4 linked regions of the Homo sapiens genome follow. The protein of the gene in region 3 purifies or fractionates together with the protein of the main gene of each other region. This does not show direct contact. Each region holds a gene or a part of one and is shown on either strand. Other genes may lie near its edges.

Region 1 (4,782 bases), on a different chromosome or scaffold from region 3:
CAAAAATTGCCAGGCATATCAACAGAGTGGACCAAATGACCAGAAACTAAGGAGGGAAAAAGACAATAGAAAGAGAGCCATAGAAAATCGAAATCATGGCGTTATCGGACAAAAAAATTCACATAACTGATTTATCAGTCCGAGAAAAACACAGAGAAAACAGAAGACAGATTCTCCAGAGAGTTAAAATCCATTAAAAGGACATGAATGGGCCAACCGTGGTGGCTCACGCCTGTAATCCCAACATTTTGGGAGGCTGAGGCAGGTGGATCACTTGAGGTCAGGAGTTTGCGACCAGCCTGGCCAACATGACAAAACCCCATCTCTACTAAAAATACAAAAATTAGCTGGGTGTGGTGGTGCGTGCCTCTAATCCCAACTACTTGGGAGGCTGAGGTGGGAAAATTGCTTTAATCTGGGAGACAGAGGGTGCAGTGAGCTGAGATCCCGCCACTGCACTCGAGCCTGGGTGACAGAGAAAGACTCCGTCTCAAGGAAAAAAAAAAAAAAAAAAGACATGAATGGATATTTTAGAACTGAGAAATATAAGAAAAATGAAATTAAGAACTCAGTAGATGGGTTTAGCAGCAAAAGTAATAAATGAATTGCAAGACAGATCAGTATAAAATATCTAGTCTGAAACACAAAGAAAAAAGCATGAGAGACACAAGAACTGGAGATATATAGAGCACTATGAAAAGTTCTAACATTCAGATTACTGAAGTCTCAGAGCAGATAGAGAAAAAATGGGACAGAAACAATAGTTGAAGATATAATGTCTGAGAAATTTCCAAAATTGATCAGACATCAACCCAGAAATTCAAGAAGCTAAATGCCAAGCAAGAAAAGAAAAAGAAACCCATACTAAGTACACCATAGTAAAACTACTGAAAACCAAAAAGAAAAAAATCTTTAAAGCAGCCAGGTGAAGGCAAAATCACCTTCAAAGGAACAACAAAGGACCAGATAGCGACTTTTCAACAGAAATGGTATAAGCCAGAAAACAAAGAATTACATCTTTAAAGTCCTTAAACAGACTCCTGTATGCACTTGATAGAAGACAGAATTAGTGAACTTTGTACAAAACAGCTATAAAGTTCTCCCCAAATATAGCATATATATAAAAATATGAAAGACAGATTAAGAGATAATATCATGATATGATCCAACTTACATTTAATCAGTTACAGAAGAAACAGACAATGCTGAAAGAAAAAATCATTTAATTTTCCACAATTGATTAAGGATACCATTGTACAAATTCAAGAATCCAAAAAAGTCTCAAACAGGAAAAGAAAAAACCTACAAACAAACCACCTAGTGTGCCAGTCACGTTTCTATTCTCAGCTGCAAGCTCATCCTTGTAGTCTCTACTGTTCTACTGTAGCTGCCACTCTGTAAACTACATTTCCCAGATTCCCTTATCAGCTGGCTTCCTGTTAGGGTCTACCAATGGAAGCCACTAGAGGGAGATTAGACGGCAGTAGATAGCAATTGCCCTAGACCCAGTGGTTTTTTGCATGAGACAATTTTATATATTAAGCCCCTGAGATTTAAGGATTATTACTACAGAAAAAGCCCATCCTATCCTAATAAAATATGCAAAAAATTAAAAGTAGAACTTTACACTTCATACCACGTATAAAGATAAACCTAAATGACAAAGACTATATAGCTTTCAGAAGAGAACACAGGAAACATCCTCATGATCTTGGGGTATAGAAGGATTTCTCAAATAAGACATAAAAAACATAAATCAAAAAGAAAAAGCTTGATAGATTTGACATAAAAATTAAAAGCTCCTGTTTATCAAAAGACAGAACTAAAATAGTGAAAAGACAAGCCACAGAAGATATTTGCAAAATATATAACAAAGAACTTGTGTACATATTTTAAAATTTGTATGAATAAGAACACTTGAAGAAACCTAATAACTAATAAACATGAAAAGTTGTTCAACATTATCAGTAATGTTCAAATAGACACTATACATGTACTGTCTTAGGTAGAGCTGCTATAATAAAATACCATACATTGAATTAAAAACATTTATTTCTCATGGTTATGGGAACTGGAAAGTCCGAGATCAAGATGCTAGTAGGTTTGTTTCTGGTAAGGGCCCCCTGGTTCATAGACAGGCATCTTCTTGCTGTGTGTTCGCATGGCAGAAAGAGGGCTGGGATCTCTTCATAAGGGCACTAATCCCACTCACGTGGGCTCCATGCTTACGACCTCCCAAGGGCTCCGCATCCTAATATCATCACATTGGGGGTTAAGATTTCAACATATGGGCCGGGCGCGGTGGCTCACGCCTGTAATCCCAGCACTTTGGGAGGCCGAGGCGGGCGGATCACGAGGTCAGGAGATCGAGACCATCCCGGCTAAAACGGTGAAACCCCGTCTCTACTAAAAATACAAAAAATTAGCCGGGCGTAGTGGCGGGCGCCTGTAGTCCCAGCTACTTGGGAGGCTGAGGCAGGAGAATGGCGTGAACCCGGGAGGCGGAGCTTGCAGTGAGCCGAGATCCCGCCACTGCACTCCAGCCTGGGCGACAGAGCGAGACTCCGTCTCAAAAAAAAAAAAAAAAAAAAAGATTTCAACATATGAATCTGGTGGGGGGACACAAACATTTAGTCCGTAACATGTACCAAGCTAGCTAAAATTCAAAAGTATGAAAATACTAAATACTGGAAAAGATTGGGGTAATAACTCTCATTTACTCCTGGTGAGAATGTGTATAACCACCTTGGAATACATTATTTAGTAAAGTTGGAACACCATTAAGACTCCACATTTCCACTCCTAGATATATATCCTACAGAAATATGTGTTTATATGTGCACCAGGAATCATGTATAAAAATGTTTATCACAGCATTATTCACAATATACAAAGACTGAAATCAATTCCAGTGTTTATCAGCAGCATGCTGCCTGTATTATGGTACAGTCCTACAATAAGCATTAACAAAACTGAATGTACTATAAAGATTAAAACAAATTACAGCTACACAAGCAACACGGATGAATCTTAAAACAATGTTGAACAAAAGAAGCCACATACCCAAAAATATTTACTCTCATTCTATTAGTAAAAGTTCAAAATCAGGGAAAACAGAATAACTACTTATTTAGGGATCTAATCATAGATGGTAAAACTATAAAGACAAGCAAAGGAATGAGTACCACACATCATGAGACAATGATTTATCTCCAAAGTGCTGGGGGCAGTGAAGGAGATGTGATCTAGGAGGGGTTCCCAAGGGGCTCCTGAGGTACTGACTTGAAAACGTTCTCTTTTCTAACTTGGTGTTGACACAGGTGCTCCTGCTCACCTTCATATTTTTTTAAGTATACATCTGTGTATCATGAACAATTCTTATCTCAAAATTTAAAAATGAAGTACACATTATAACAGCATTACAATCATGAACACATGTGCTATGTTCTCTGGGAGACAAAGAGAAACTATTTACCCTACTTTCCAGAAAAGGACACTGACACTTAGAGGGAACACAAGTGTTGAAACCAGGTCTGAAATCCAAGACCCAAGATGCTTTTTTGCTGCTAAAGCATTCATTATCCAGACTCTGCCTGCATGAAGGTGATGCATAGGAAATGATGAACCTGGTAAAAGCTTCCAGTCTTAAAAATACTCCAAGTAAGGCTCTTTAAGGCTTCTGGTAGGGACATTTTATTTTTTGGTAAAGCCACAATAGATAGAAATGCCATAAAAACAAACATGTAAACAAGGTATCAGAACTTTGGTTCACTGAAACATCTCACACCTAAAACACCTGAGGTACAAAGGCACCTTGCTAGGCGCTAGACAGCTAACTCTGCTGCAGCCACTTTGATCCTAGCCTTGGGGCCAGGGATGGCACAGGCTGAATGGAAGGGCTGGGACTTCAGTCACACAGGAGTCGCCCTAGTATGGTCTCCCTCTGCTCCAGACAAACATTCATTTCTCCAAAAATCAGCCTGATAGGAACATACAAAGGAACATACAAAGGTGTCTGTCACGTTGACATGGGCTGAAGGACCAGGAAGGGGAAGGACAGAAAAGGATGTCAGTCAACTTCTGTTGATCCACAAGGTCTCAAGAACTCCTGTCCTCGTTCATGGAACCACTTATTGGAGACTGTGAAAAGAAAGCAAGCATGTTACAATCCTATTGGTCAGTTTAGTAGCCTGAATGAATGACTCCTTCATGATGACCCCCTGCACTGTGCCCTGGAATCAGACACAAATAAGACAAGACATGATCTCAGGCCTCAATTTGCTGAAGAATTGGTAAGGAAGACACATGTAAACAGATAATTGTATGAAATTCTGCCAGTGGGACAAGATACATGTGTGCAGGTTGCCATGGGAATAGCACCCAAGGGCATCTAATCATGCCCTTTCATGCCCATGACCTTTGATGCCCTTTGGCTCTATTCCCATGGCAACCTGCACACATGTTTCTTGCTCTTAGAGGGAAGAGGAAATCCTAGGGCTAGAATATAAAGCTACATAGAAGTTATCCTGGGAAGAAGATGGGCATACCCAGATGGTTCTCTCACCAAGAGGGTCCCAGGAGTGACAACAGGATGAGAAAGTAATCAAGGCAGAAGCCACCCTGACGTGTGTTGGGGACTCAAGAGGCCTAATATTACTGGGAGGTGGCAGGTAGAAACTGAGAGGTAGGGTGTGAGGATGAGGAAGACTGTCAGCATTGCAGAGGGCTTGGACATTAACCTCAGGAGCCGTGGACCAGCAGATCCAGTCTGTATGCCATGGG
Region 2 (4,782 bases), on a different chromosome or scaffold from region 3:
GCCCAGGCTAGAGTGCAGTGGCGTGATTTGCCTCCACCTCCCGGATTCAAGCAATTCTCCTGCCTCAGCCTCCTGAGTAGCTGGGACTAAGGCACTCACCACCATGCCCGACTAATTTTTGTATTTTTAGTAGAGACAGGATTTCACCATGTTGGCCAGGGTGGTCTTGAACTCCTGACCTCAAGTGATCACCTGCCCCGGCCTCTCAAAGCGCTGGGATTACAAGAGTGAGCCACTTTGCCTGGCCCAAATATAGAGTCTATAATTTTTACCATCTTGATAACAGTTTAGGAGTAAAGTGTATACTGATAACAGGTTTAGAAAAACATTCACTAATAATTCTATTAATTCAGCTCTTAGCAGCCTCAACAGGATGTATCATCTTTGAAATCGTCTTAAAAAAGAACATAAAGACATAGCAACAAAATACTCCCTCTCTGTGTGTCTATATCTCCCTCCCCTCTCAATCACACACACACACACATCCCCACCCACCCACGTACACACATCCCCCCACCCACCCACATACACACATCCCCCCACCCACCCACATACACACACACCCTCAACCCACACACTCCAACCCACCTACACACACCCCACCACCCACCCACCCACACATACACACACACCCCCACCACCCACCTACCCACACACACCCCCTCCACCCACCCACCCACACACATGCACACACATACACACACCCCCCACACACACAGTGGGTACACATGTGATTCTGAATGCAGTCATAAAGCACAATTATCTTGAATTGGACTGTTCTAACAAGTGCTTCATGTAGCTCAAGTCAACTTTACAAAGGGGAAAAATGGAGTCTGACTTTCCTGTCTGGACAGCAGCAGGAAATAGATGATGTCTCTGAAAGACAGGCTTATCTCATTCCATTTAGTCTCTTGGCATGTGTCATTCATGCTGCTGCTACTGAAGATCATGGAAGTTGAAATGATTTCTTAAGTTACTGAAGACTGTTTTCAGAAAGGTGGAACCACAGAGACATGATCATGAAGATAAAACTATCTGAAGAGTCTATTTGGGAATCAGATTTTTTTCTGAGTTTCTAACTGCCTTTTAAGATATGCAGAACTATCAGTTTCATAGTTCCATTGTAACATTTTAAACTATTACAAAAGTGAAGTTTTTTTCCCTTTTCTCCTGATTTTAAATATAAGGTAACTAACTCCAAGGAAGATGAGGCAGCTCGCCCCAGGTCCCAGTGAAATCAGTGATAGAGCTCTCTCCATACACAGCTAGGTCTCACTCCTGAAATTTTCTATACTATGCCATGGTTGTTTCCCAACTGATGACATGCCAGAACATCTTTAACTCTGCCCCAATTTTAGTATTTTCACTTATATTATCTGAAGCTTTTGTTCAAATCGTTGATGTAAATTGAAATTCTTTGTGAAGCCTGGGCCCTTTTTTTTCTATCTAAACGTTCTTTAAATTGCAATATGAACAGAAAATTAGATTTGGAAATGACTCCCACCAAAGCACGAAGGCTGCTCTGGCAGGCAAGTAATGGGAGATTGTTCACAGCCTCACAAGGGACACATGAATACTACCAGCATAGTCATTAATGCCAACTGAGATTCAAAGAGAACATGTCATACAGTGCCAGAACTAGAAATGGGCTTGTTCTTATGGATGAAATGTCATGTAACAATCATTTTTTTCAAATCATAGAGTGAGCTGCTAAGTAACTCTCAGAGGAGTTCTATTGTTCTCCACTGGTTTGTTCTGGAGTCAGTACTTCTCACCAAGATATTAGGCAATTACCAGGAAAAGCAGGAAAATAAGCACTGTAGGCATATTTTCTCCCCCAAGATTTCTAAAAAGAGTCACATTTAATGTTTTAAGATTAAGAATATATTATGAAAAGTACTACAGGGATGTTTTATTCCTCTGTGATAACTTTCATATATACTGGTGGGTTGTTTGTTTTTGTTTTTTGAACCAATGCTCACTTTCTTGAGGTACTTTCTCTTTAAAATTTTGTTCAAGACTGCAAGTGTGTAAACTCATAGAAAAGATTTGGACGAGGCCAGGCACAGTGGCTAAAGTCTGTAATCCCAGCACTTTGGGAGACCAAGGCCAGAGGACTGCTTGAGCCCAGGAGTTCAAGACCAGCCTGGGCAACACAGGGAGACCCTGTCTCTTAAAAATAAAAAATTAGCCAGGTATGGCAGTAAATGCCTGTAGTCCTAGCTACTTGGGAGGCTGAGGCTGGAGGATTACTTGAGCCCAGGAGCTCAAGGCTACAGAGTAAGCTGTGATCGTGCCACTGCACTCCAGCCTCGGTGACAGAGGCAGACCGTGTCTCAAAAAAAAAAAAAAAAGAAAAAGAAAAAAGGAAAAGATTTGGAAGAATAAAGACCAAACCTAAAATAAATTATCTCTCTGAAGGGGAAGTTGATGACTAGGGGGTAGGGATGGTACAGACTCATTATCACGTACTACTTGCTTAGTTTTAGTTGCCCTAAGAAGCATTTTTTATATTTACTGGAGACCTATGATTGTTAAAGACCAAAAAATATAAGCTTCAATTTTAAGTGCTCTCTACCATTGATTTTACATAAAGCCCTAGGTAATAAACATATATCTTCTTTGATATTTTCTAATTATAAGGCCCTGAATGCCTACCTCCCATGCGCCACTTTTTATATATATAAACACTTAACATATACACTTACACATATTTCCACATACACACTTTAACATATATATACAAATCTGCAAATATCAATCAACCTATAGGAATAATGCCTTTAAAAAATCTGCAAATGAAAAGAAACAGACAACTCTGAAATAGCTATAATGGGTTTACTTCCTTTTCTGACCCAGATTCCCATGTTTATGGCACTATTACTGGTATGTATCACAATTAAAGCACTGTATTAAACTATTCAATGACAGCTTTTTCAAAGAATGGCAGTCAACTCACTTGCTCCAAGCCAAAAATGGAATAGGAGAAATTCATGTATTTTAGGACACAGTAAGGGTGTGTGCCTGGTGGCACACTCTATTTTTAGGAGTTATATTGGGAAACTTGCTTTGTGTACACATGTATAAAAAAAAAACAGTAATAGAAGGGTAACTACATGACTTATTTCATTCTTACATCTCTGCCCAACATGAATAAGGTAATGTCTTCCCAAGAGCTTGTAGTTTTAACTCACTATTCCCAAAGGCTTATTTCTACATTTATATACATAACTAAAGGGGTTCCTTGATGACTTTATGGCTTATGTTCAATAAATTTTAAAGTCTGTAAAATTTCAAATATATGCACTAGCAGTAAGTAAAAATGTATTTTAAGGGAATGACAGAAATCTGAGTACACTAACCTAGAACTTGGAATGGAATTATAGCTCTCAGGTAACTATCAGCATGTGATGCTCAGAGGGATAACATAGATTAATTCTGCCACTTTATCAAGTGATAGGCTGTCAATATCTTTTCCTGGACACTGTTCATGACTTGATATATAATATGGTTTAAATTTCTGTCCTTGCCCAAATCTCATATCAAATTGTAATTTTCAATGGTGGAAGAGGGGCCTTGTGGGAGGTGACTGGATCACAAGGGCAGACTTCCCTTGCTGTTCCTGTGACAGAGAGTGAGTTCTCACAAGATCTGGTTGTTTAAAAATATGTAACACCTCCCCCTTCTCTCTTCTTCCTTCTCCGGCCATGAAAGACATGTCTGCTTCCCCTTTGACTTCTATCATACTTGTAAGTCTCCTGAGGCCTCCCCAGACAAGTTTCCTGTACAACCTGCAGAACTGCCAGTCAATTAAACCTCTTTTCTTTATGAATTACCCAGTCTCAGGTAGTTCTTTATAGCAATGTGAGAACAGACTAATAGTTTTAAAAATCAGTATAATAGCAAATCATGTTGTGACACTTGCATCAAGAGGAATCCACTGCCAAACCCTAGTTTTTCCCATTAATACAACTATTCTTTTTTTTTTTTTTAATTTATTTTTTTATTGATAATTCTTGGGTGTTTCTCACAGAGGGGGATTTGGCAGGGTCATGGGACAATAGTGGAGGGAAGGTCAGCAGATAAACAAGTGAACAAAGGTCTCTGGTTTTCCTAGGCAGAGGACCCTGCGGCCTTCCGCAGTGTTTGTCCCTGATTACTTGAGATTAGGGAGTGGTGATGACTCTTAACGAGCATGCTGCCTTCAAGCATCTGTTTAGCAAAGCACATCTTGCACCACCCTTAATCCATTTAACCCTGAGTGGACACAGCACACGTTTCAGAGAGCACAGGGTTGGGGGTAAGGTCACAGACCAACAAGATCCCAAGGCAGAAGAATTTTTCTTAGTGCAGAACAAAATGAAAAGTCTCCCATGTCTACTTCTTTCTACACAGACACGGCAACCATCCGATTTCTCAATCTTCTCCCCACCTTTCCCGCCTTTCTATTCCACAAAGCCGCCATTGTCATCCTGGCCCATTCTCAATGAACTGTTGGGCACACCTCCCAGACGGGGTGGTGGCCAGGCAGAGGGGCTCCTCACTTCCCAGTAGGGGCGGCCGGGCAGAGGCGCCCCTCACCTCCCGGACGGGGCGGCTGGCCGGGCAGGGGGCTGACCCCTCCACCTCCCTCCCAGACGGGGCAGCTGGCCAGGCTGGGGGCTGACCCCCCCACCTCCCTCCCGGACGGGGCGGCTGGCCGGGTGGGGGGCTGACCCCCCCACCTCCCTCCCGGACGGGGCGGCTGGCCGGGCAGAGGGGCTCCTCACTTCCCAGTAGGGG
Region 3 (4,782 bases):
CTGGAGTGCAGTGGCTTGATCTCAGCTCGCTACAACCTCCACCTCCCAGCCGCCTGCCTTGGCCTCCCAAAGTGCCGAGATTGCAGTCTCTGCCCGGCCGCCACCCCGTCTGGGAAATGAGGAGCGTCTCTGCCTGGCCGCCCATCGTCTGGGATGTGAGGAGCCCCTCTGCCCGGCTGCCCAGTCTGGGAAGTGAGGAGCGCCTCTTCCCGGCCGCCATCCCATCTAGGAAGTGAGGAGCGTCTCTGCCCGGCCGCCCATCGTCTGAGATGTGGGGAGCGCCTCTGCCCCACTGCCCCGTCTGGGATGTGAGGAGCGCCTCTGCCCGGCCGCGACCCCGTCTGGGAACTGAGGAGTGTCTCTGCCCGACCGCCACCCCGTCTGGGAGGTGAGGAGTGTCTCTGCCTGCCCGCCCCGAGAAGTGAGGAGCCCCTCCGCCCGGCAGCCACCCCATCTGAGAAGTGAGGAGCCCCTCTGCCTGGCAGCCACCCCGTCTGAGAAGTGAGGAGCCCCTCCGCCCAGCAGACACCCCGTCTGGGAAGTGAGGAGCGTCTCCGCCCGGCAGCCACCCCGTCCGGCAGCCACCCCGTCCGGGAGGGAGGTTGGGGGCAGCCCCCGCCCGGCCAGCCGCCCCGTCCGGGAGGGAGGTGGGGGTCAGCCCCCGCCCGGCCAGCCGCCCCGTCCGGGAGGTGAGGGGCGCCTCTGCCCGGCCGCCCGTACTGGGAAGTGAGGAGCCCCTCTGCCCGGCCACCACCCCGTCTGGGAGGTGTACCCAACAGCTCATTGAGAACAGGCCATGATGACGATGGCAGTTTTGTGGAATAGAAAAGGGGGAAAGGTGGGGAAAAGATTGAGAAATCGGATGGTTGCTGTGTCTGTGTAGAAAGAAGTAGACATGGGAGACTTCATTTCGTTCTGTACTAAGAAAAATTCTTCTGCCTTGGGATGCTGTTGATCTATGACCTTACCCCCAACCCTGTGCTCTCTGAAACATGTGCTGTATCCACTCAGGGTTAAATGGATTAAGGGCGGTGCAAGATGTGCTTTGTTAAACAGATGCTTGAAGGCAGCATGCTCCTTAAGAGTCATCACCACTCCCTAATCTCAAGTACCCAGGGACACAAACACTGCGGAAGGCCGCAGGGTCCTCTGCCTAGGAAAACCAGAGACCTTTGTTCACTTGTTTATCTGCTGACCTTCCCTCCACTATTGTCCTATGACCCTGCCAAATCCCCCTCTGCGAGAAACACCCAAGAATGATCAATAAAAAAAATAAAATAAAATAAAATAAATACAAGAATTAGCCAGGCGTGATGGTGGGCGCCTATAATCCCAGCTACTTGGGAGGCTGAGACAGGAGAATCATTTGTACCCAGGAGGTGGAGGTTGCAGTGAGCCAAGATCGTGCCACTATACTCCAGCCTGGGCAACAGAGTGAGACTCCGCCTCAAAAAAAAAAAAAAAAACTATTTTATTAAGGAACACCTCTGCTGCTGGACAATACTCTACCAAGTGCTAGAAATACGCAGGTCTCCAGCTACTCAGGAGGAGGTTGAGGCAGGAGAATCACTTGAGCCCAGGCGTTCAAATCCAGCCTGGCCAACATGATGATACCCCTGTTTCTAAAAGAAAATTTTTTAATTAAAAAAATTTTAAAAAGAGGGTGTGGTAGCTCAGGCCTGTAATCCCAGCACTTTGGGAGACGGAGGTAGGAGGATCATCTGAGTCCAGGCGTTTGAGACCAGCTTCATCAACATGGCGAGACCCCCATCTCCACAAAAAGTTATAAAAATAAAAATAAATGAGCCAGGCATGGCGGTGCACACCTGTGGTCCCAGCTACTGCAGGAGGTGAGGCATGAGGATCACTTGAGCCCTGAGCCCGGGAGGTCAAGGCTGCAGTGAGCTGTGTTTGTGTCACTGCACTCCAGCCTGGGCGACAGTGAGGCCCTGTCTCAAAAAAACAAAAACAAAAATAAATATGCAGTTGTCCAAGACTCACGGTCAGGCCTAGGCATGAACCTCACCAAAAGCCTTTTTCTCTAGCTTACCAGCAAAACAGAATAAGGCTAAACTAGCTCAAGCCGCCTCACCCTCCAAGCACCTTCAGATCTCCCTGGACAGAGACACACCCTCCTTTTCACCCCGGAACTTGTTGGTATAAAACCCTGGAATAAATGGCACATGAGCCAATCGCTCCATAACTCCATCTCATCCCCAGAAACACAGTGGGAACCCAAATTCCCAGAAAGAGAGTAAAAGGATGAAACTCTCCTAGGTGCGTTCAGTTCCTCATACTCACCTAAAATGCTTGGTCACACGTCCCGACAGGTAGCAGAATGAGGGTGACCCCATATTCCTCTTACAGATGAGGGAATTCACACAGAAAGGGTATGTGGTGTCAGTGGCCAGGTCTAGGCCACCAGGAGGCAAGACAGAACCCCAGCCTCCTCCTCCCTACACAGCGCCGCCTCCCTCTGACTAATGCGACACTTCTCAATGAGCTAGAATCAAAAGTTGTAGGAATTCACAATTCCCACACCCAAAGGACCTCACTAGCATATACCATCGCCCTCAATTTTCCCCCAGCTCCTGTCTTCCCTCCTTTCTCACCATCAGCATTTTCTTTTACAGCATCTACCAGCTGGGCGCGGTGGCTCATGCCTGTAATCCCAGAACTTTGGGAGGCCCAGGCGGGCGGATAACAAAGTCAAGAGTTCGAGACCAGCCTGGCCAACATGGTGAAACCCCGTCTCTACTAAAAAGACAAAAATTAGCCGGGTGTGGTGGTGCGCACCTGTAGTTCCAGCTACTTGGGAGGCTGAGGCAGGAAAATTGCTTGAACCCAGGAGGCAAAGGCTACAGTGAGCCGAGATCGCACCACTGTACTCCAGCCTGGGGACAGAGCGAGACTCCATCACACACACACAAAAATAATTTAAAAAATAAAGCATCTACCTGTGGCTGTGAAAGACATGGCAGTTCCACTCACTCCCACTCTGGTGTTGAGACAGCAAATTTCAAAAGAGAGGAGCACCGCTCTGGGGCAGCACCTAAGAGCACAGCCTTCTCCATCCCATCCCAGAGCCTGGACACAGTCACCTCACCCCATTTTATCAGTGGTGACAGGGGCTGTTTCCCAGGCCTTCTCACTCTGAAATTTATCTCTAGATTTCAGGCAACAAACTGTGGCCAGCTACAGGAACATTCTAGAAAAAAAGTGGGGACAAAAGCAATAACCATGGTAATGTGCACTCGTTAAAGGGCCTCCTGAAAAAGAGACAGGGAGACCAGCACCGAGGGAAGGAAAAAGGGGTGGCAGGAGAGGGAAGAGACGAGACAGTCAAAAAGGAGAAACCCAAAATATAATTAAGCAGTGGCTCACACCTGTAATCCCAGCAGTTTGGGAGGCTGAGGCAGCCAGGTCACCTGAGGTCAGGAGTTCAAGACCAGCCTGGCCAACATGGTGAAACCCCATCTCTACTAAAAATACAAAAATTAGCCAGGCATGGTGGCGGGCACCTGTAGTACCAGCTACCTGGGAGGCTGAGGCAGGATAATCACTTGAACCTGGGAGACAGAGGCTGCAGTGAGCCAAGATCGCACCACTGCACTCCAGCCTGGGGGACAGAGTGAGACTCCATCTCAAAAAAAAAAAAAAAAAGAAAAAAGAAAAAGAGAAGCAGTCAAGGGAAAAAAATGGGTTCGGGTTTGTCCATCGTTTCTGACCTATGTAAATTGATGGTAATTAACTAACAGCAGCCAGGCGCCCGTCCCAGCCCCAATATTTTAGTATTTTCTACAGAGAGGCCTGACCTTCAGAGCTATCTCAAGGGGTGGCCTCCTAGAGCCCCCTGCAATGGTCACTCTTGGTTCCTAGTGTCTGTGACCCAGCAACCCTGACCTGCACCCTGAGAAGAGGCAACAGCACTGATGAGGCTGAGCCTGGTGGTCTCCAGACTCCCAAGAGAAACCGTAAGAAACTGTAAGACCCCTTTCCCAGCAGTGACAGACAAGGCAAGCCTGCAGCACCTGCTGCCTTCATATCTGGGAAACGGTTAGTGGGTCCCTCATATAAAAACAATGTTTTACGTCCCTTTTAAAACTCATTTTTAAGGCCGGGTGTGGTGGCTCACGCCTGTAATCCCAGCACTTTGCGAGGCCGAGGCGGGTGGATTGCCTGAGCTCAGGAGTTTGAGACCAGCCTGGGCAACACGGTGAAACCCCGTCTCTACTAAAATACATAAAATTAGCCGGGTATGGTGGTGTGCGCCTGTAATCCCAGCTACTCGGGAGGCTGAGGCAGGAAACAATTGTTTGAACTCAGAAGGCGGAGGTTGCAGTGAGCCGAGATCGCGCCACTGCACTCCAACCTGGTGACAGAGCAAGACTGTCTCAAAAAATTTTTAAAAATAAAAAATAAATTAAAATTAAAATTAAAAAAAAAAACAGGCAAGGAGAAGAGGCCGGAGAGGTTTGACTTTTCACAAATCATTAATTAAACAACTATCTACTACTGAGTGTTTACACCAGGTGCTGGACATCTTTAGGTCAGCGTGTACGGCAGTAACATCTTCAACGCGTAGCTGCAGACAGACTGAATGCAAATGGAAGAACACAGTGGCACGGGAGGGAGCGCGCTGATGGGAAACTCAGGGGAGAAAACAGTTCAAGCAGGCCGGGCACGGTGGCTCACGCCTGTAATCCCAGCACTTTGGGACGCCAAGGCGGGCAGATCGCCTAAGGTCAGGAGTTTGAGACCAGCCTGCCCAACATGGAGAAA
Region 4 (4,782 bases), on a different chromosome or scaffold from region 3:
TAGATATATCTTCTGACTTTATTACATATGGGCTTGATACCCTTTTATAGAGGAGCCAATTCATGGGACTAACAAGCAGATCCCTCCTCACATTTCAGGCGGACTATGAAATAGTGACGAGCTCTTCTCCTTGCCTGGGAATTTTTCTTGCGAGCTCCTCTCAAAGCCTGTCTCCTCTGTGAGGCTTGGTTCATCACTGGTTGTACTGGTGGTGGCTCTGCCTCTTCTGCTCCTTCCCTGGGATATAGTAGCGGCAGGACACAGGCTGATGAGGCCTAGCAGGCCTAGCAGGAGGGAGCTAGGCTGAAGGAGGAAGAGGAATTGGTTGAATGTCTGTCATCGGCCAGTGTAGTTCTAGATACTGAATATTCAAGGGGAGGTGGTAGAGTCAAGAGGAGTAACTAGATGGGGTGGTGGTGGCTCACACCTGTGATCCCAGCACTTTGTGGTGGATTACTTGAGCCCAGGAGTTGGATTATGGCAAATAATCCGGCAGTGGCAAATAATACAACAGAGTGAGACCCTGTCTATTAAAAAATAAATAAATAAAGAGGAGTAACTAGTGCTGCAAATTACACTAGCCAGGACTTCAGAACTTCAGGTGTGAGACCTGAGGTACCATGTCAGTGGGCTGAAGGCAGGGTGGTAAGCAGGGAGGGTCATGGGCTGAGGGTGGAGGTTGGGTTTAGGCAGCATTGCACACACCAAAAGATAAACTTTATTTTTGGAGTTTGTTTTTTTTTTTTAACTCAGATCTTTATAAAATTAGAAGGTACAAAACTCAGAGGGCATAATATTCCCTTATGTAAGAGCATCTTTCTAAACAATCCCTATTCTGTCATTAAAAGTGAAATAAATGTGCAGAGTTGCAAAAAATTATCGATTCGTTCATAAAGATTTGTATTATTTGTATTTAATAACAACTTTGTAAGAATTTAATATTTATTCTTATAAGTATATAAACAAGGCCGGGTGCGGTGGCTCAAGCCTGTAATCCCAGCACTTTGGGAGGCTGAGATGAGCGGATCACTTGAAGTCGGGAGTTTGAGACCAAACTGACCAACATGGAGAAACCCTGTCTTTACTAAAAATACAAAATTAGCCAGCTGTGGTGGCGCATGCCTGTAATCCCAGCTACTCAGGAGGCTGAGGCAGGAGAATTGCTTGAACCCAGGAGGCAGAGGTTGCGGTGAGCTGAGATTGTGCCATTGCACTCCAGGCTGGGAAACAAGAGCGAAACTGTCTAAATAAATAAATAAATAAATGTAAACAAGAAAACAGGCTGGGCATGGTGGCTTGTGCCTATAATCCCAGCACTTCGGGAAGTCAATGCACGCAGATCGCTTGAGCTCAGGAGTTCAAGACGAGCCTAGGCCACATGGCAAAACCTCATCTCTACAAAAAATACAAACATTAGCTGAGTGTGGTGGCATGTGTTTGTAGTCCTAGCTACTTGGGAGGCTGAAGTGAGTGGATCACCTGAGCCCAGGAGGTCAAGGCTGCAGTAAGCCTGAGCCGTGATTATGCCACTGCACTCCAGCCAGGGTGATAGAGCAAGACCTGTCTCAAATAAATAATAATAAAGAACAATAAAAAAGAAAGATTATTTAATATCTCACTACCCTGAGGAAATCAGTTACCCTTTGGCTATCAGATATCGGAGGAAATAAGGTTGTAGAGGAAAAAATCGTTAAGGTATTTTAAACAGACATTTGTTTCATTATTTGGAACTCAATAATAGAGACTTTAAGTACAAATTGTGAGTCTAGGAGAATTTTTGATTTCCACAGATGAGAAATAAAATAAGAATATAGACATTGTTGGACTTTGAAAGCTTACCCAATGTTTAATAGTTTGCTGAACAATTGCCAAATGAAATGAAATGCTTTCAAAGTTTCTGAAAGGCACAATTCTCTTCTTCCTGAGCTCAGAACATTTTGGTCATAATCATGAGCTTAGAAATGTTCTGAAGGGAGTACAGGACCTTCATTAGCAATAAAATAATATATATTTCCAATGACACTGAAAGTTCCCTATCCTAGCTACATATACAACTAAGGAAAACAGAGAGGGACAAAATACGAATAGAATGCAGTATTCCAAAACACAATCCTGAATGAAATGCACACAGTCGTATGATATCTCAAAGATTCCCATATAGTTAGAAATAATATCTTTCTACGTCTAGATACTTTTTTTTTTTTTTTTGAGAGAGAGAATCTCACTCTGTCACCCAGTCTGGAGTGCAGTGGTGTGATCTCGGCTCACTGCAACCTCTGCCTCCCGGGTTCAAGCCATTCTCTTGCCTCAGCCTGCTGAGTAGCTGGGACTACAGGCGCCCGCCACCACACCTGGCTAATTTTTGTGTTTTTAGTAGAGACGGGGTTTCACCTCGTTCGTCAGGCTGGTCTCAAACTCCTGACCTCATGATCTGCCTGCCTCGGCCTCCCAAAGTGCTGGGATTACAGGCAGGTCTAGATACTTTTAACTCATCCAGTTTCAGAAATCTATGTGACATTTTAAAAACTCAGTTTTGAATAAAATAAAATATAAACTCCACATTTCAAGGATGAGCAGAGGAACCAGAGGTTTATCTAATTAATGCTAGAGACAAGTCATTTCAAAGATGAGGAGTAATGGTATTTTTTAATAACAGCTTTATTGAGGTGTGGTTAACATAAATTACATATAAAGTATACAATGTAAATGTTCCCACAACAAAAAAATAGTATGTGAGGATATGTTAATTAGCTTGATATACTCATTCCACAATGTAAACATATATCAAAACATTACATTGTATCCTGTAAATATGTACAATTATTATTTATCAATTAAAAATAAAACCTACAGTGTACACTGATAAGTCTTCATGTATGTTTATACCAAGATAATGAACCTTCCATCACAACCAAAACGTTCCTTCTGCCTCTTTGCATTCCCTCTCTCCTGCGTCTCCCTGTCTCCCTCTCCTCCCCATGCCCCACCTTCAGGCAGCCGCTGACTACTTTCTCGAATTATAGATTATTTTCTAGTTTTCTATAAATGGAATCATATAAGAGAGTATATTTGAAAAGCCAAATGTGGCCGGGCATGGTGGATCACACCTGTAATCCCAGCAGTTTGGGAGGCTGAGGTGAGTGGATCACTTGAGGTCAGGAGTTCGAGATCACCCTGGCCAATATGGTGAAACCCCGACTCTACTAAAAATACAAAAAAATTTAGCCAGGCATGGTGGCAGGCGCCTGTAATCCCAGCTACTTGGGAGGCTGAGGCAGGAAAATCGCTTGAACCCGGGAGGCGGAGGTTACAGTGAGCTAAGACCACGCCATTACACTCCAGCCTGGTCAACAAGAAAGAAACTCCATCTCAAAAAATAAAAATTAAATTAAACTAAATTAAAAGCCAAATGTGAAAGAAATACGAGCATTTTAGCTGTAATGTATAAATTGTACTGCAATATTTTTTTACATTTTTTAACTAGTTTTTTTTTTCTTTTAGTGTCAAAGAGTATTACATACACTTTGGATATGTAAAATATCCAAATATTTTACCATGCTAAAATATTTGGATACCTCCAAAAGACATTCAGTGAAAAGGAAGTTTCTCTTCCACCTCAGACCCTCAGACTGCTAGTCCCTGAGACCTCTTTTCAAAAGACAATTAGAATTCTGTGTCTTGTATATCCTTCTAGAAATAGTCTGTACATTTACAAGCATCTAGACTCATCAACAAAATAAAACATGCTGTCTTCTGTTCTGCACTTAGATTTCTTTTCCATATAACAGTAGATTTTGAGATTGTTCCATAAGAGTCCATAGAGAATGCCTCACTTTTTCATGGCTGCATAATAACTTATTATATGGATTTCTTTATTCAGCCCTCTATCAGTGGACATTTAGATTATCCCTTACCACATCACTTTGCTTTTTGGATAACGCAAGCAATGCTGCAGTGAACATCCTTGTTACTGTGAACACTCATGTAAATATATATGTAGGCTAAATTCCTAAAAGTATAATAACTAGGGCAATTAATGTCATTTTAAAATCTTGATAAATAGGCTGGGTGAGGTGGCTCACGCCTGTTATCCCAGCACTTTGGATGGCTGAGACAGGCAGATCATCTGAGGTCAGGAGTTCAAGACCAGCCTGGCCAACATGGTGAGAACCTATCTCTACTAAAAATAAAAAAATTAGCTGGGCATGGTGGCCTGTGCCTGTAATCCTAGCTACTCGGGAGGCTGAGGCAGGAGAATCACTTGAAACCCGAGGTGGAGGTTGCAGTCAGCTGAGATTGCGCCATTGCACTCCAGCCTGGGCCACAGAGCAAGGCTCCATCTCAAAAAAAAAAAAAAATCTTGATAAACAGGCTGGGCACAGTGGCTCTCACCTGTAATCCCAGCACTTTGGGAGGCTGAGGTGGGAGGATCACTTGAGCCCAAGAGTTCAAGATCAGTCTGGACAACATACCAAGACTGTCTCTCCACACACACACACACACACACACACACACACACACACACAAACACATACAGAGTTGCCAGGTGTGTTGGCACACACCTGTAGTCCCAGCTACTCAGGAGGCTGAGGTGAGAAGATTGCTTGAGCCTAGGATTTTTGAGGCCACAGTGAGCCATGATCATGCCACTGCACTCTTCAGCCTGAGTGGCAGAGCGAGAGACCCTGCCTCAAATAAAAAAAACCTTAAAAAAAGAGAAATCTTGGTAAATAGAATCTAATTGTCCTACAAAGAGGCTAAACACTTCCACAACCGATATAT

What was found.
Region 1: the proteins of ACADS (region 3) and P4HA2 fractionate together in Homo sapiens (co-fractionation; one large-scale study listed by BioGRID). This does not show direct contact.
Region 2: the proteins of ACADS (region 3) and CLIC4 fractionate together in Homo sapiens (co-fractionation; one large-scale study listed by BioGRID). This does not show direct contact.
Region 4: the proteins of ACADS (region 3) and POGLUT1 fractionate together in Homo sapiens (co-fractionation; one large-scale study listed by BioGRID). This does not show direct contact.

What each region holds. Positions count from the first base shown.
Region 1 is NC_000005.10:132,188,941-132,193,722, forward strand, and holds the end of P4HA2 (prolyl 4-hydroxylase subunit alpha-2 isoform 2 precursor), read right to left. Parts: intron 4,141-4,782; coding exon 4,070-4,140; 3' UTR 1,207-4,069; downstream 1-1,206. UniProt on the Homo sapiens protein: Catalyzes the post-translational formation of 4-hydroxyproline in -Xaa-Pro-Gly- sequences in collagens and other proteins.
Region 2 is NC_000001.11:24,800,284-24,805,065, reverse strand, and holds part of CLIC4 (chloride intracellular channel protein 4), read right to left. Parts: intron 1-4,782. UniProt on the Homo sapiens protein: In the soluble state, catalyzes glutaredoxin-like thiol disulfide exchange reactions with reduced glutathione as electron donor. Can insert into membranes and form voltage-dependent multi-ion conductive channels.
Region 3 is NC_000012.12:120,728,140-120,732,921, reverse strand, and holds part of ACADS (short-chain specific acyl-CoA dehydrogenase, mitochondrial isoform 1 precursor), read right to left. Parts: intron 1-4,782. UniProt on the Homo sapiens protein: Short-chain specific acyl-CoA dehydrogenase is one of the acyl-CoA dehydrogenases that catalyze the first step of mitochondrial fatty acid beta-oxidation, an aerobic process breaking down fatty acids into acetyl-CoA and allowing the production of energy from fats.
Region 4 is NC_000003.12:119,471,469-119,476,250, forward strand, and holds part of POGLUT1 (protein O-glucosyltransferase 1 precursor), read left to right. Parts: intron 1-4,782. UniProt on the Homo sapiens protein: Dual specificity glycosyltransferase that catalyzes the transfer of glucose and xylose from UDP-glucose and UDP-xylose, respectively, to a serine residue found in the consensus sequence of C-X-S-X-P-C.